Regions from separate parts of the Homo sapiens genome. Here region 2 is linked to region 1. A link means that fine-mapping ties the variant in region 1 to the expression of a gene that starts in the linked region. Tissue or cell type: whole blood. Region 1 holds a variant in brackets; the other region holds the start of a gene. All regions are shown on one strand. Distances are from middle to middle.

What was found. PIP is the estimated chance that this variant, and not a neighbour inherited with it, causes the effect.
Region 2: it holds the start of PPM1M, and the variant in region 1 is fine-mapped to the expression of PPM1M in whole blood (TOPMed, PIP above 0.99).

The regions. Positions count from the first base shown.
Region 1 is chr3:52,294,099-52,302,174 of GRCh38, forward strand. GLYCTK (glycerate kinase) reads left to right here. Exons shown (of 5, transcript NM_145262.4): 5 at 1-1,159. MIR135A1 (microRNA 135a-1) reads right to left here and starts at 210; the gene lies at 121-210. RefSeq lists enhancers at 4,853-5,723, 5,724-6,593. The variant A/T (reference allele first, on the strand shown) is at 4,299.
Region 2 is chr3:52,242,200-52,250,275 of GRCh38, forward strand. PPM1M (protein phosphatase, Mg2+/Mn2+ dependent 1M) reads left to right here and starts at 3,560. Exons shown (of 10, transcript NM_144641.4): 1 at 3,560-3,849; 2 at 4,496-4,613; 3 at 4,775-5,029; 4 at 5,483-5,595; 5 at 5,954-6,038; 6 at 6,136-6,254; 7 at 6,438-6,501; 8 at 6,757-6,864; 9 at 6,975-7,123; 10 at 7,471-8,076. The coding sequence starts at 3,626. The coding sequence ends at 7,615. RefSeq lists silencers at 3,434-3,803, 3,844-3,903.

The DNA.
Region 1 (8,076 bases):
CAAGTGGGAATAGAGGAACGGCTGTGTTGGCCTGGCCAGCAGCCTGGGTTGAGAGAGGGAGGTGCCACTGTCCTGCCTCCTTTTGAGCCCCCTTGCTCAGTGTCAGAACCCTCCGCTGGCTGTCCCCGCCGTGCGCCACGGCTCCAATCCCTATATGAGTGAGCAGTAGAATCACATAGGAATAAAAAGCCATAGAGAACAGCGAGGCCTGGGGCTGCTCTTGCAGGCACTTCTTCCACCCCAACCCTCCCCTCCTCCCTGAGGGTGTGGAGGGGCCCTGGGCCAGGGCTGGCAGGACTTTCCCCTGGGAAGGGTTTCCCTTCCCCACCTGGGCTCTGGGCAGCCTAGCTTGCAGACAGTTCATGACCTGGGGGCCTGGCTCACACAGGGCAGGCTGGAGATTGGGAGGGAGGTAAACGTGGTAAGCGGGCTCTGGGGACCAGGGAGGTTTAGGAAAAGGGGAGCTTGCACCCCACTGGGATGCGCAGGCACCGCTTCCTTTCCTTCTGTGCTGGCATGGAGTTCCTGCTGACTAGGGTCACAGTCTCTGGGGTTATGGTGATCCTCGCATGATCCTGTGCCGTGGTGCTCCTCTGGCAGCGTCTACATGTAGCCTGTTCCTGCCTCAGTCCTTGCTCTTGGGAGCATGAGTATTGGCACTGGGTTCCAAGTTCCAGGCAAAAGCAGGATAGGAGAGCTGGGGCAGGGGCTGCAGGAGCTGAGGGCCTGGCAGCCATGTCCCCAGTGTGTGTGTGGGTGGTAGGTGTGTGAGTATACAGACGTTGGTGTTGGCGTACTCAGAGTGGGAATGCATCTCTGAGTGTACACATAGATACTTAGTACAGGGCACATGACTCCCTGCATCCCTGCTGAGGGCTTTGGGTATGGATAGGATCTTGCAGGAGGTTCCCCCTGCTCTACATTGACCCCTTCCCTATACTTCTGTTTGTAGGGGCTGGGAGGCCAGGGCCCGGATTGGACCCCATAGGGCCAAATGGTCTGTGAGCCTAACCCGTTAGATTTGCTCACTGGATACCCCAGAGATAAGAAAGGATGTATTTGGCCACAGTCTAAATGCTGAGATGAGAAAACCCTGCACAGTGAATGTTTTGATAGGATTCATTACTTGCTCCATAAATGTCAATTTTGGATCATTGAAGTGCCCGTCCCTTGCTCTTGGCTTCTGTTTCTTCCGGCTGCTGCTGCCCTCGTGCCCACCTCATCGTCATTTTCTGAAGCTTCCCCTGGCCCAGCTGGAGGATTTCACCATGGAGGGTGTCTGGCCCTGCTGGCTATAGCAACCCTCACAGGCCTCTCCATTCTCTGCACTTGGCATGAGCCAAGAGCAGTGGGGCAGTGGGCCTGGGCAGCCCTTCAGTGTCAGCTAGTCCCAAGCGTTTGATTTATAGTTGGAGATTCAGAGAGAGAAGGTGGCTTACTGGGGACTGTACAGTCCCACATAAGGGCCACAGAACCAGGGTAAGAACCTAGTTGGAACCTGCTTGACTATCCTCTGCCACTCTCTGGGGCTCAGATACCCTGGGGCCAAGCAAGGGCTCAGCCAGATCCAGGGGATCTACTTCTGCTTCCCCACTGCCCCTCAAGGGCTTGGGATGGCGACACAACCATGCTTGGCCTCTCCAGGGATCCACACAGCAGATGTGTTGGAACCTTCTTGTCTCAGAGGGACAGCTCCATTGTGTGTGTGATTTGGCAGAAAACCATGCGCAGTTGAGTGGTGGGCTTCTACATAAATGTGTGTCTGCATCTGTATGCACATCTGTGTGTGTGTGCATGTGTGCGTGTGCATGAATATATGTATAAGCATGTGTATGTGTAGTGCAGCCCACAGCCAGTCTCTGAGCTCTGCTGTGCCCCATCCCAGGGTGGAGACACACAGGTGTAGTTAGAGTGTAGGGGATACAATGAGCAAGTTGGGCAAGAAGGCCCAGAAGACTGGCAGAGGCTAGTGTGCCTGGCCGAGGGAGTTGACTTCACATTGACATCAGTGGCAAACCTCATGAAGATTTTGGCAGGGAATAATGTCATGAAGCTGTTTTGGGACTTTAATGCTGAGAGCCAGCTTCCTTACAGCAGAGGGCGGGGGTTGGGGGCATGCAAGGAGATGGAAGGGGTTGCAGATAGGAGAGGTGCATTACCAGGCTCTGAGACCCTCTCCCACCTCCCCTATGCAGCCTCAGCTCCAAAGCCTTTAGCCAGCCCAGGGAACCCTTTAGATGCCTGCTTTGGAACCAAGGCCGAAAGCCCTGGCTCAAACACTGTTGGGAGTAACTGAGCCCATCTGTCTCTGGGAATGCCTCAGGGTGTTGAGGATTTGTGGGGGCAGAGGCTGGGCAGCTAGTGGACAGTTTGGTGGGCATAGGGACCCCACTCATGTAGGATCTCACGAGGGTGGCATTTAAGTGGCTTGGAAGGAGCACTGGAGTAGGAGTCAGGTGGTAAGTCCGAGTCCTGGCCTTCCCACCTTCCTTTCTCCAGGCCTGTTTTCTCATCTGTTTAATGGGGAAAACATCCTTGCCCTATCATCTCTTTAGGAAGGTATCAGCGGCAGGTGGATCTGTGCGGGAAAGCTCTGTGGAAGTGGGGAGCTCAGGGAGGGAGAGAAAGAAGGTAGAGGTGTTGGCCTCTTCCAAGGGGAATCTCAGGGAGCTCTTGGCTCAGGGAGGCCCTCTTCTCCCATGGTAGGACCAGAGTTAGAGCCAGCGGGACCTTGGCGCTCACTGACTGAGGCTGAGTGAGCAACCTGCTGGCCTCTGGCACTAGGCAGGCACCAGCAGGGAATGGTATCTGAGTCTTTAATGGCCAGTAGGGTGTACAGTGCCCTGGGAGATCACGGAGCTGATGGATGATCGCCTGGAGTCAGAGTGAGCTGAGCCGCCTGGAAGAGAGCCCCCTAATGTCTCTGGAAAATGGGTAGGGCAACCTGCCTCCCTCTGGGTCTGGGTCATGTGCGAGGGGCATGATGAGGCCCAGACTGAGGTGAGGGAGGACTGGCTTAACCCCAGGCCAGAATCCGTAGCTAGGTAAGAGGATTTGGGATATGCTAGGGGAAGGGAGGGGGTATGCAGGGGTGGGGGACACACACACCCTGGATGATAGGGAAGCCAATGACCTAGGCAGGCTGCCACATCAGCTATAGGACCATGGGGCTGTCGTGAGCTGTGCCCAGCCCAGGAGAGATGGGCTTTCTCCCCAAGGCTGTGGGCCAGACATCTCCCCAGTAACCGCTAGGGCCAGTTCTGAGGCTTTGCTCTCCACTTCCCCTGACTCAGCTGGTTTGTAGTGGCTGGAGGAGGGTGGGCTGGGGGTGGACACTCAGCCTGGCACCAGCTCGTGCCCACAGCTCTGATTCCACCTCTCTAGACATGCTGCTTCCATCCGGGGGTTTCTAGGGGGCAGGGGTGGGAGCAGGTGCAGCTGTCGCCTTGCTCAGATGAGGAAGTTCTAGCCAAGGGAAGAGGGCAAAACAGTTGGCCCCTGGAACAAGTGCCCCATCTGCCCAGTCCTATGAGGCCACTGCCCTTAGCAGCTCCGCCTCATGGGACCACTACTCACCAGGATTTGGCCCACCACTGCCTCCTTGGGGAGCCAGGGAGCTGTAGGACTTGGCTGTGCCCCAACCAGAGAGCCAGAGGCTAGACCCCCAAAATGCATCCCATTGAGAAGGTCTTCCCTGGTGTCCCTTCACGTCTGGGCTGGCCTTTTCTTTTCCTCCACTAGCAGCCAGCAGAGCCGCCCTGCCCACCTCCCTGGAAAGGTGTGAGCCATACATTTCTCCAGCCCTGCCTCTCCATCCCCGCTACCAGCCGAGAAGGGGGTGGGGCCCTTGGCACTTGGCTTCTGCCCCTTCAGATCATTCCCACCCACCTGCACAGCTTTAGAGTCTCAAGATCTCCTTGTGGCCCTTGGTTGTCTCCAAAAATCACACTTGTAGCCTCATTGGAGCCAGGCCTCTGTCTCCACCTGCTTTCCCCACCCCTATCCACAGAGCCCCCGTTCCTCCCTGTCCAGCCCAGTTCCAGGAAGCTGACTGCAGGAATATCTAGGCTCTGGGTTGAAACCCTGCTGTTTGCAACTCTGGGCAAAGCTCTTCTAGGGATGCTGTCTGGAGGGAGCTGGTCAAAGACCCCTAGGGGAGGGAGAAGTGCCTGTCTTTACCATGTGGGTCTATGGGTCTGGGGATCAGTAGCTTGGAGTAAAACCTGTGAGCCTATGGCAGGGGGAAGATCTCTCCCTCCACTCAGACTCTCCACCTGGGCAGTGGGAGTAGCCCCAGC[A/T]CATTCCAGCCAGCCGCCAACCCCCCTGCTAGCACAGGCACTTGTGAGGGTCACAGTCCCCTGGACGGTGCCGCTGCTGGCACCCAGCAACCCCATAGCAGCAGCCCAGTCAGAGTCAGGGTCAGAGCCCTGGACTCCAGGACTGGGCATACACTGTTCCAGGCAGCCCAGCCCCCGCCCACCCTCTCAGGTCCCCCTGAGGGTCTCTCTCAGCCCAGGGCCACCCACAGAAGCCAGGCACCCAGGCAGGAACGGAGCCTGCCAGCTCCCGGCCAGCCTTGTCCCTCTCGGCTAACTGGCCACCCCTCTGCCTCCCACTCCTGCTGACCCCCGGGGGACCTGAAGCTGGCAGTCCACTGCTGCTCCCCACTGCCTGGGGCAGAGAAGCATTCTCCCCATCTGCCTGCCCCCCAGGGCTCCGGCCACCCCATGCCTGTGTCCCCAGATCCCCAAGGCTCACCTCAGTGGCGCTGTCTCCTCACCAGAGGCACTGCAGTGTGGGAACTGTCCCGAGGAGCTGGTTCTCAGCTGAAACAAAGAGGTGGGGGAGAAAGGGGGGGCAGCGGGAGAGGGAGAGGGTGAGTGAGCGGGCGAAGGAGTGGAGGCTGGAGGGGGAAGAGAAGGGAGAGGATGAGAGAGAAGAGGAGAGGGGAGGGGAGAACAACGAGCCTGCCGCCCACCGAGAGATAAAGCCTGACACCCAGGGACTAAAGGGCCAGTAGAGGAGGGGAGAGGAAATGGGGAGGGGGCAGGGGAGGTGAGGGGCCAGACTGAGAGTGGGGAGACTGTTAGAGGGGCGGGAGAGCAGGGACAGGGTGAGGAGGTAGAGGGCAAGTGAGGGGCGTGGGCAGGAGAGGAGCAGGGTGAAAGGCAGGTTGCAGGGGGCTGGTGGCTGATGGCTGAGCTGGGCAGAGGGGCCCCACCCCGTCCCATGCCAGGCTCTGGACTCAGGGGAGACCAGTAGGACTTGAATGGCAGAAGGCCATGCATGAAGGGGACTGGCAGGGAGGGGAACCTGCCAGCCGTTGGGTAAGGGGCTGGGCTGGTGGGCTGGCTGGGAGGACTGCGGCCAGTGGCAAGGCAACAAAGACGTGAAAAGAAACAACGGCATCTGAATGGAGGAATCGGCTTCTGCTGACCCCTGGGTGCCCCAGCCCTGAGCATCCCAGCCAGAGCTTCCTGGAGTGGGGGTGGGGGGCAGATACACTCTGGGGCGGTCCAGGCTCTGAAGTGGCGGCCTGAGGTGGAGAGGAGAGGACATGGGCTGTGAGGCCAGGCAGGGGTCCCAGTCATTCTTTGAGGGCTCAGAACAACCGGGACACACACCATGATTGACCACACATGAGGATGCTGGTGTCACTGTCTTTTCGGGAAGGGGATGGTTGATGGGGCCTATCCTGTGACTGAGAACTGGGTAGGGGAAGCCCCCTCTTAGGGAGAGTGTGTGCCCTGCCTCCATCCCAGGGAGGAGGGCAGGGTAGGGAGCACAGGGAGGGAGGAGAGAAGTGGGGATCAAAGAGGTAGGGAAGCAGGGGAGAGAGAGCGGGTGGGGGGAAGGAGGCTGCAAGGGGTGGGCACGGAGCTGCAAGACCGCCGAACCAGAGGCTCCCACTCCACACCCCACAATTCTCAGGCTGCCTAATGCCGAGCTAATGAAGGATGAAATAATGAGCCACTTCCCTGCTGCTGCCCTCCTGCTGCCAAGTGCTGCTGTGACAGGCAAGGGCACTGCCTGGGGAAGTCAGCTCGGTGAGTCTGTGTGAGCGTTCGTTCACTGGGAGGGAGGACAGGATGGCCTTGAGCAGGGCCGTCCCAACCCTCTCACCCCACCAGGCACAGCCCCCGGGCCAGTTCAGCCTCCTCTTACACTCAAAGGCACAGAAGTTCCAGCCACCCTCCCACACCTTGTGACCAAGGGAAGTTCCCTTTCTTATCTCAGACTCCCAGAGCACGTTATTTGGAGAGTAGGAGAAGGGGAGGGAGCGAGGGCTTGCCTAAAGCTGTGACAGGGAGACTCCCAGAGAGTCAGCCCCTGAGTGCCACCCTCCATACAAGGGTCAGAGGTGTGTGCCCCTTAGACCCTGCCTCCCCAAGCCGTTATCACCACCTCAGGGAATCCCTCCTGGCCCCACCCAGCAGGGGTACAGTGACTTGGCTGCCACTTGTCCAGCTGTCTCTTCTTATAGCCTAGAGCTCGGAGAAGGGAAAGGACCTTCCTTCCTTCTTTCTTTCCTTATTCTTCTTTATTTTTTATTTATAAATGATTTCAAACTTACAGAAAAGTTGCCAGAATAGTGATAGTACAAAAGACACACGTGCTCTTTTGGGGATATGTTCAACTACTGTGAATATTGTGCTCCGTTTGCTCTGTGTGTGTGTGTGTGTGTGTGTGTGTGTGTGTGTGTGTGTGTGTATAGACATACATATTTTCTTTCTTACTCATTTGAGTAAGTTGCAGACATTTGAAAGGATTGCTTCCTATCTGTCTCTGTCTCTGGAGCCAGCCCACGGGATCCCAGACCACATTATGTGGAATGAATGAAGGCCTGGGACAGGCAAGGAATGAGCAGATGTCACCTACTGGGAGCTTGAGATCTGGGGACTGACCAAGGCCACCTTAGGAATTGGGCCAGCCCAGGGCTTGAGGTGGGGTAGGGGGCTGTGCTGGGCCTGGGGTCCTGGGAAGCAAGTGAGCAAGCGGGGAGGGAGCCATTGCCCACCAAAGCGAGCATGTGGTGTTTCCCGGGTGTGGAGCTGCAGCATATGTTTGTGGAGATGGTGGCAGGCAGGCAGGCGGGGTGGAGCTGGGAGAGCGGGATGGCCGTGCTGTGGCACCTGGCACACTTGGGAGACTGTGTGCTGTTGGGCCCTAAGTGATATGAGAGGACCCAGCTGTTGGAGGCCCCAGCCCCACCACCTGCCTTTGGGACTCTCCCTACAGCTCCGTGAGGACAGGGCAGGGATGGAGTCCACCTGACCAGCTGGTCTGTGCTGATCTGCTCGGAAGGGGCATGATGGGGCTCCAGCCCTACTGAGGCTTCCATACCGGTCCCTGACACAGGGCTGCGTTCTTTCTGCACCCCCAGTACCCCCAAGTAGGTTGGAGTCCCATCCGGAGACCCTCCTTCAGATGGCTGTTCTCATTCCTCCCAACTCCCACCCAAAGGTCATGGTTAAGAATTTTGGTATTGGCCGGGCGCAGTGGCTCACGCCTGTAATCCCAGCACTTTGGGAGGCCGAGGCAGGCGGATCACGAGGTCAGGAGATTGAGACCATCCTGGTTAACATGGAGAAACCCTGTCTCTACTAAAAATACAAAAAAAAAAAAAGCTGAGTGTGATGGCGTGCGTCTGTAGTCCCAGCTACTTGGGAGGCTGAGGCAGGAGAATGGCGTGAACTCGGGAGGCAAAGCTTGCAGTGAGCCGAGATCATGCCACTGCACTCCAGCCTGGGTGACAAGGCAAGACTCTGTCTCAAAAAAAAAAAAAAAGAATTTTGGTATTTAGGCCAGACTTGGTGGCTCATGCCTGTAATCCTAGCACTTTTGGAGGCTGAGGCCAGTGGATTGCTTGAGGTTAGGAGTTTGGGACCAGCCTGGGGAACATGGTGAGACCCCTGTCTCTACAAAAAATACAAAAATTAGGCGGGTGTGATCATGTGCACCTGTAGTCCCAGCTACTCGGGAGGCTGAGGTGGGAGGATCACCAGAGCCCAGGAGAGTGAGGCTGCAGTGAGCCACGATTGTGCCACTGCACTCCAGCCTGGGCAACAGAGTAAG
Region 2 (8,076 bases), 52 kb before region 1:
TTAGGTGGAGGAATGATTGATCTCATCTTATCCTTGTTCTGCACCTGGGCAGATAAACTTGTAATTGACATTGTCAGTGTGAAATTTAACAGACTTTGGTTTTAGGAGTTAGGTTTAGGTTGCAGACCTAAAGTTGCAGTTGACATGTCCTTGTTTTATAGGAGGATATACATCCTGAAAGTTTTAGGGACTGGCAAAGAATTTACTGCTGAGCAATTTGTGATTGCAGTCACCTGGAGATTCATGAGGCTTTTTGCCTTTTTGTGGGGATCTGGTTAATGCATAATATTTTGACACAAGGTTGCAAGGTAACAGGTATCCATTTGGGAAAAGAATGACAGTTTTGGAGAACATTAGTTCTGCAGCATAGAATGAAGTGTTGCCGGAATAAAATTAAAAAAAAAAAAAAAAGGCTGGGTGTGGTGGCTCATGCCTGTAATCCTAGCACGCCTGTAATCCCAGCACGCCTGTAATCCTAGCACGCCTGTAATCCCAGCACGCCTGTAATCCCAGCACTTTGGGAGGCCGAGGCGGGTGGATCACCTGAGGTCTGGAGTTCGAGACCAGCCTGATCAATATGGCGAAACCCCATCTCTACTAAAAATACAAAAATTAGCTGGGCATGGTGGCGGGTGCCTGTAATCCCAGCTACTGGGGAGGCTGAGGCAGGAGAATTGCTTGAACTCGGGAGGCGGAGGTTGCAGTGAGCCGGGATTGTGCCAGTGCACTCTAGCCTGGGTGACAGAGCAAGACTCCATCTCAAAAAAAAAAAAAAAAAAAAAAAAAAAAAAAGGAATGCCAGTGTTGTGTGGCTCAGTCTCCAAGCTTAACTCTCCCTTTAGCATAACAAATTTGGGGGTCCTGAAATTTTTATTTTCCTTTATGAAAAGATCAATAATCCATTTGCATAAAAAATAAAGTCTATATGGAAAAAGCCACCATCACAGCCAAAACACAAATAACAAACTGTAACTTGTTACAAACAGCATACTTGTAACTCATTTCAAAATAAAGAGCTGATTTCTCTAATATATAAAGAGCTCTCATAAGTCAATAAGAAAAAGACCAATGGTAGCCAGGCGTGGTGGCACATGCCTGTAATCTCAGCTACTCAGGAGGCTGAGGCAGGAGAATCACTTAAGCCCAGGAGGCAGAGGTCATGGGGAGCCGAGATCACACCATTGCACTCCAGCCTGGGCAACAAGAGCGAAACTCTGTATCAAAAAAAAAAAAAAGAAAAAGAAAAAGACAAATGGCCCAGTAGAAAGTGTGGCAAAGGATACAAACAGACCATTCACAGAAAAAGATAGATAAATAACATCTCTCAGGAAAGTACCTCCCAGTCACCCTTTGTTGGAAAGTTGTTGAAGGATGCACTTCAGCAAAATGAGGGAGTAAACCAAGAGACATAGGCTTAAGATCCAGGCAAGAGTGAGGCGCTTAGGAGCCCAGGAAGCCAGAAGAGCCTGGTAGCACTGAAGGAACACTCAGGCCACCTTGGAACAGAGAGGATGGGATTGCCATGTGGTTCCACATGGCTCTGAAAATAGACAATGGCTAAGCTGTGCAACAGACTGCCTATGACATTTGGTTGCCCAGAGCTTCTGTGAAAATACTTCAGGACAAGGCTTTCCCCCACCCAGGGGTGGGTTGGGGAATAGAGTGTATGCACTTTGTTTTGTCCAATTTTAGACTTTAAAATCCTCTGAGGCATCAACTGGTGAGGGTGAGGAAGTGGCCCCATAGACTGAATTGGGCCTGCCCCACCCTGGTACCTTTCTGTTCTGTCACAGTGACAATTCACAGCTCAGAGGTCCTTTGGGAAACTTTCTCTGACATCGCCCCTATCCTCTTGCCAGCTGGATGAAGCAGCATCCACCAGAACTGCTACCATCACTGCAGGGGGCTTGGTGGGCAGAGGCCTGGCTTGTCTCCATTAGCACTGCGTTCCTGTGCCCAGTGTGGCCCCAGCAGACACTGTGGGTTCAGTCAATCAGCCCCCAGGCTGGTCTGGGACTGAGTCATCGGAGGGAGTGGGTGTTGGGCACAGGTCCCTGCCCTAAGAACCTTCCTTCTTGGGCCCGAGGAACTCCCACTGGGGCAGGACTAGCTGCTGGGAGGAAGTAGGGCTTACTGAGCGTCTACCTGGGCTAGGGAGTGGAGGTGAAGGTGGACTCCTCATACAGCTCATATGCAGGCACTGGGCTGTGGAGCCTTAGCCGCTTTTAATTGGCAAGCCCTGGCTTCCTGGAGGAGGAAAGGGGAAGAGAAGTGCCCTGGGGGCGAGGATTGAGTCAGCTGCATTGTCATAATGGAAATAGTACAGCCCTGGGTGTCCAAGACTTCCCCTCCATGGGCCTCAGAATCGTCCATATGATGTAACACTCTTTTTTTTGAGACTGAGTCTCGCTCTGTTGCCCTGGCTGGAGTGCAGTGGCTCCATCTCGGCTCACTGCAACTTCTGCCTCCTGGGTTCAACCGATTCTTGTGCCCCAGCCTTCTGAGTAACTGGGATTACAGGCGCACACCACCACGCTTGGCTAATTTTTAGTACAGACGGGGTTTCACCATGTTGGCCAGGCTGGTCTCGAACTCCTGACCTCAAGTGATCCGCCCGCCTCGGCCTCCCAAAGCACTGGGATTACAGGCGTGAGCCACTGCCTCCGGCCAAAGTAACACTTTTGCACAGGGAGTTGGACTTGAGTGACAAATGGGTGACAAAGTGCTTTGTTAACTCGCAGATGTGAAGGGGACACTGCGGCTGACCGCCTGGTGACAGCTAGCCAGTGGTTGAGAGACCGCAAGATGGTTCCTCGTCTTTCACTTCCCTCCGTCCCAGGTCTGAACTCGGACCAGCTGGAGCCTTTGGGGGACCACGGATTCCCCTTTACACTCACACAGATTTCTCTTGTCCGTCACTCACTCACAGTCCAGTAAGGATCCTGCTGTCTATTCCGCGAAGACATCTTGAATGCAGGGACAGCCATTTGGAAGACTGTCCTCGAGGGTGGCAGCAGCCTCTCAGGACGGGGAAAGCCAAGGTGCCCACTAAGCCCGTCTGGGGTGGAGGGTGGCAGGCCGGGGTGGAGAGGATTGGAGGCCGCCTGAAGGAACCTGTGCTCGGTGGCATTTACTCAATGTGGGGGTCTGACACCTCCCAGCTCATTTTGTCCCCATCTTCCCCTTGCGTCAGGTCCCCACCCAGCAGGAGGAGGTCCGAGGATCTGCGCGACGCTGGCCCCGCGGAGTGTGGGGGACTTTTCCTCTCAACCACCAGTGCCCCGCAAGCGTGGGTGAACAGTCCTCCCTGGCTACTGTGGGACGCTGGGCAGGCGACTTCGCCTCTCTAGGCCTCGGTTTTCCTGCTTGTCAAATGGGGCTGATGCCGGCGTGGGCTTCTTCAGGCGGTCGCGAGCGTTGACCCCTGGAGTCAGCGAACCAGCCGCGCACGCACTCCCGGGCGGAGGTCGGGGCTGGGGGGCGACGCCTCCCGTCTGCGCGCCCCCGGCCCCGCCTCCCGCCGGCGCACCCCTCCCTCGGCTCCGCCCGCGGCCCGCTTCTTCCTCCCGCGGGCGGCCCAGCCCTAGCGCCCCGCGCTCCGCGGGCAGCCCCCTGCCGCCGCGCCATGTCCGCCGGCTGGTTCCGGCGCCGCTTCCTGCCTGGGGAGCCGCTCCCCGCGCCGCGGCCGCCTGGGCCGCATGCCAGCCCCGTGCCCTACCGACGGCCCCGCTTCCTTCGCGGCTCCAGCTCCAGCCCCGGGGCGGCCGACGCCTCGCGCCGCCCAGACTCCCGGCCCGTGCGCAGCCCCGCACGAGGACGCACGCTACCCTGGAATGCAGGCTACGCCGAGTGAGTGCCCCTCCCCGACCCCCAGCTCAGGCCCGGGCCTGAACCCGCTTCGGGTCCTGCGCCCGCCTAGAAAGCGGGAGGAGCTGAGTGACAGTCCCCACCCACCTGTGGACAGCCCCTTCTTGCCCTCACCTCCGAATCCTGACAACTTCCCGGTCATCCCGACCCAGCGTTTTCCTTGGGATTCCGACCTCCCCCTCAGAGAAGACAGGAGGTCGGGAAGGACCTGCAGCCCAGGGGCTTCCAAGATGAGGCCCAGAGACTCGGTAGAGTTCCAGCATTCGGGGCTTTGGAGATTTCCCCTCGCCCTCTACCCCCACCATCTCACCCTGGGTATGACCTGCGCTGTATGGGACAGGGCTTTGGGCTGCGACAGGACAGGGGCAGGAATGGCAACCTACCCTTACCGTCTAGCCCTGGGTCACCAGGTAGGCTCCAGAGGAGCTGGGCCCTGACTTTTACCTTAGCCATGAGGCCAGTGAAGTTAGGAAGCTTACATCGTGGTTGTCTAAGTGTGTGTTAGGGACAGCACTGGGGAGCTGTTGCCCCAGAGGGAGGGGTCTTCTCCCTGTGCTGGCTTGGGTCCCTGTGCCCATGGGGACATAGGTGTGTCCCTGGAGGGTCGCTTACCATTTCCCGGCCTCAGGATTATCAATGCAGAGAAATCTGAATTCAATGAGGATCAAGCCGCCTGTGGGAAGCTGTGCATCCGGAGATGTGAGTTTGGGGCTGAAGAAGAGTGGCTGACCCTGTGCCCAGAGGAGGTGAGTGCAGTCTGAGTTCTTGGCTGGAATCCCTCCGACAGGCTGGGGCCACGACCTGCAGGCTGAGGTTCTTACCCTGCTGCCCCAGGTCCTAGTTAGGTTGCGTCAGGGGACAAGTGGGGAAGTCAGGCAGAGGCTGACACTGAGCCCTTCCTGTGCAGTTCCTGACAGGCCATTACTGGGCACTGTTCGATGGGCACGGCGGTCCTGCAGCAGCCATCTTGGCTGCCAACACCCTGCACTCCTGCTTGCGCCGGCAGCTGGAGGCCGTGGTGGAAGGCTTGGTGGCCACTCAGCCCCCCATGCACCTCAATGGCCGCTGCATCTGCCCCAGTGACCCTCAGTTTGTGGAGGAAAAGGGCATCAGGGCAGAAGACTTGGTGATCGGGGCATTGGAGAGTGCCTTTCAGGAATGTGTGAGTGTGTGGCTTTTGGCTGGGGAAGAAGTGGAGATTTTGCCCCGGGGATCTCAGGAAATGGCATCTCTGTATACCCATGGTCATCACACCAGATCCTTGGATTGGGAGGATGAGATTGGGTTGGTTGGATTGTTACTAACAGCCATCACTATCAGCATAACCCCTCTCATTTATCCAGCACCTACTGTGTGCTAACTGCTTTTACCTGCATCATCTAATTGAATACCCTATTGGTCCTTGGTGCAGGGGCTGGTTTCTCTTCCTATTTTGAGTAGCACTTCCCTTGTCTAGATCTCCTGACTGCAGGGATCTTGGAGGTATGGCTGGACTTTGGGCTGGGACTGTCAGGCCTGCTGGTAGAAGTGAACTGTAGGGTAGGGTGGGGATTGAGAGACAAAGTAGTATGGTGGCAGAACAGGCAGCAGCTAAGGTGGCCTCGGTTTTCCCCAGGATGAGGTGATCGGGCGGGAGCTGGAGGCCTCAGGCCAGATGGGCGGCTGCACAGCCCTGGTGGCTGTGTCCCTGCAGGGAAAGCTGTACATGGCCAATGCTGGGGATAGCAGGTGAGTCACCCCTTGGAGGGTGGGCAAGGGTGGGATGGGGAGGGCATAAGCAGCAATGGGGACAAGCAAAGGTGGCTGGAAGTGGAGGGATAGTAGGAAGGATTGACTGGCTGAATTGTGTGTGTACTTGTTATGTGTCGAGTGTGGACAGTGGCTGCCGGGGAGGGCAGGGACCTCAAAGGCCCCGCTAAAGGGCTAAGCCTTCACCCTTGCAGGTCTTAGGTAGTCATGGAGGGCTTTAAGGGATCATCATGGACAGAGCTGGATCCTGGTGGTTGGAGGAGGGACTGGTAGGAGGGTGGCCATGGGTGAGGGTGGAGGCCTCCTCCTAGACCTCTCCCTTCTCTCCTCAATCCAGGGCCATCTTGGTGCGGAGAGATGAGATACGGCCACTGAGCTTCGAGTTCACCCCAGAGACTGAGCGGCAGCGGATCCAGCAGCTGGTAGGTGCCCTTGGCAGCATGGAGGCTGTGAAGCTCCAACTCCTGGGTCCAGGGCCATAAGAAGGAGTATGACCTGAGCGCAGCCTCCCCACCCCAGGCCTTTGTCTATCCTGAGCTTCTGGCTGGTGAGTTCACCCGACTGGAGTTCCCTCGGCGGCTGAAGGGGGATGACTTGGGACAGAAGGTTTTGTTCAGGGATCACCACATGAGTGGCTGGTGAGTGGGGATGGGGGACAGGTAGGAAGGGAGACCCCTGGGATCCAGGCCCAGCCGTATGGCCTGGGGCCCCCCTCCACCTTGGCAGGGTGGCACTGTGAGGGTGTGACAGCTGGGCCCTGAGTTGGGGAAAGATGAGATGGGGCACAGGGCTTGGGTTGATGCTGGCTCTGCTCCTGGTAGGAGCTACAAACGTGTGGAGAAATCGGATCTCAAGTACCCACTGATCCATGGACAGGGTAGGCAGGTCAGTGCCTGGTCCTCCTCAACCCCAAGAATCCCTCTTCATTGTCCCCTGCAGAGGTGGGAGCTCCTTTGCCTCTTGCTGGTAGCTGTGGCTGGTGGCCTGGGATTTGCTCTGAGACTAGGAATTTTCTCTCTCAGTCCAAGGCTTCCAAGGGCCACAGTCCACCTCTCCCTGTGTGCTCTGCAGTGCTAGGGCCTGGTACTTGTGCATTTGCTGGAGCTGTTTGCCATCGCCTCACACCTCACTTTCCCTCAGGCTCGGTTACTAGGAACACTGGCTGTCTCCCGGGGCCTGGGAGACCATCAGCTCAGAGTCCTGGACACAAACATCCAGCTCAAGCCCTTCTTGCTCTCTGTGCCACAGGTAAGGGGGCAACGCTGTCCAACCCAGCTTCCATCTGCCCAGAAAGGCAGACAGTGAGGCTGGTGGGAGTCGGGAAGGGAGTGTGCAGGATCCTCAGGCTTAATTTGTAGGTGACTGTGCTGGATGTGGACCAGCTGGAGCTACAGGAGGATGATGTGGTTGTCATGGCAACTGATGGACTCTGGGATGTACTGTCCAACGAGCAGGTGGCATGGCTGGTGCGGAGCTTCCTCCCTGGGAACCAAGAGGACCCACACAGGTACTGTAGCTGCTGGGGACCTGCCTGGGCCTGGGTTGGTGCCAGCAGCAAGCCCAAGTAGTTATGGCTGAGAAGACAGAGCACTGACAATGAGCTGGCAGCTGGCCAGGATCAGGGCTGTCTCAAGCTTCTTGGAGGAGGCAGGGAGACCGTGGGTTCCGAAAATCCCTGGATTTAGACTCTCATGGTCCAGCCCGTGGCCCTCCCAGACTTGCTGCTTGCTTGGTCCACAGTCGGACTGCATTGCTTGGGTCCCCATGTCCAGCCTTGTGCAGTGAGTTCTCCTAAGGTCTGGCCTTGCCCCTTTGCTCTGCCCCTGAAGTCTATCTGCAGGATGGTCTTCACAGGTTCTCAAAGCTGGCCCAGATGCTGATACACAGCACACAGGGAAAGGAAGACAGTCTCACAGAGGAAGGGCAGGTGTCCTACGATGACGTCTCTGTGTTCGTGATTCCCTTGCACAGTCAGGGCCAAGAGAGCAGTGACCACTGAGGATTCAGACACTGTATCCCAGAACTGCTCTAGTGCCCGGGTGTGGTCTGGGCATCCCTCCAGTGTGACCAAGAGCAAATCCTGCCTGCCCTATCCCTAGCCACCGCCCAGTGCTCTCACTATCCACCTCAACACACATCCATCTCAAGAGGAACATTTATACCAGGCAGTCAGAGCTGGAAGTGTATGGAGAGCCCAGCCCACCAGGTCCTGCCTTTTGCGGTGATAACCTTCTCTGGCAGAGTGACTTTACAACTTAACTAGGAAACCCATGTGAGGCTCCTCAGACAGGATCTTGAACAGCCCAAAGTATCATTCTCAGATAGGGGCACCCAAGCTAAGGGTATTAGCCAAAGATGCCAGGATGGGTAGCTAGCCCATGTTTAGATCCAGGTCTCCAATTCATGGTTATCAGGGCATGTGTTCAACAACCCCCAAAGTCCACGCAGGTGGCTTGTAGA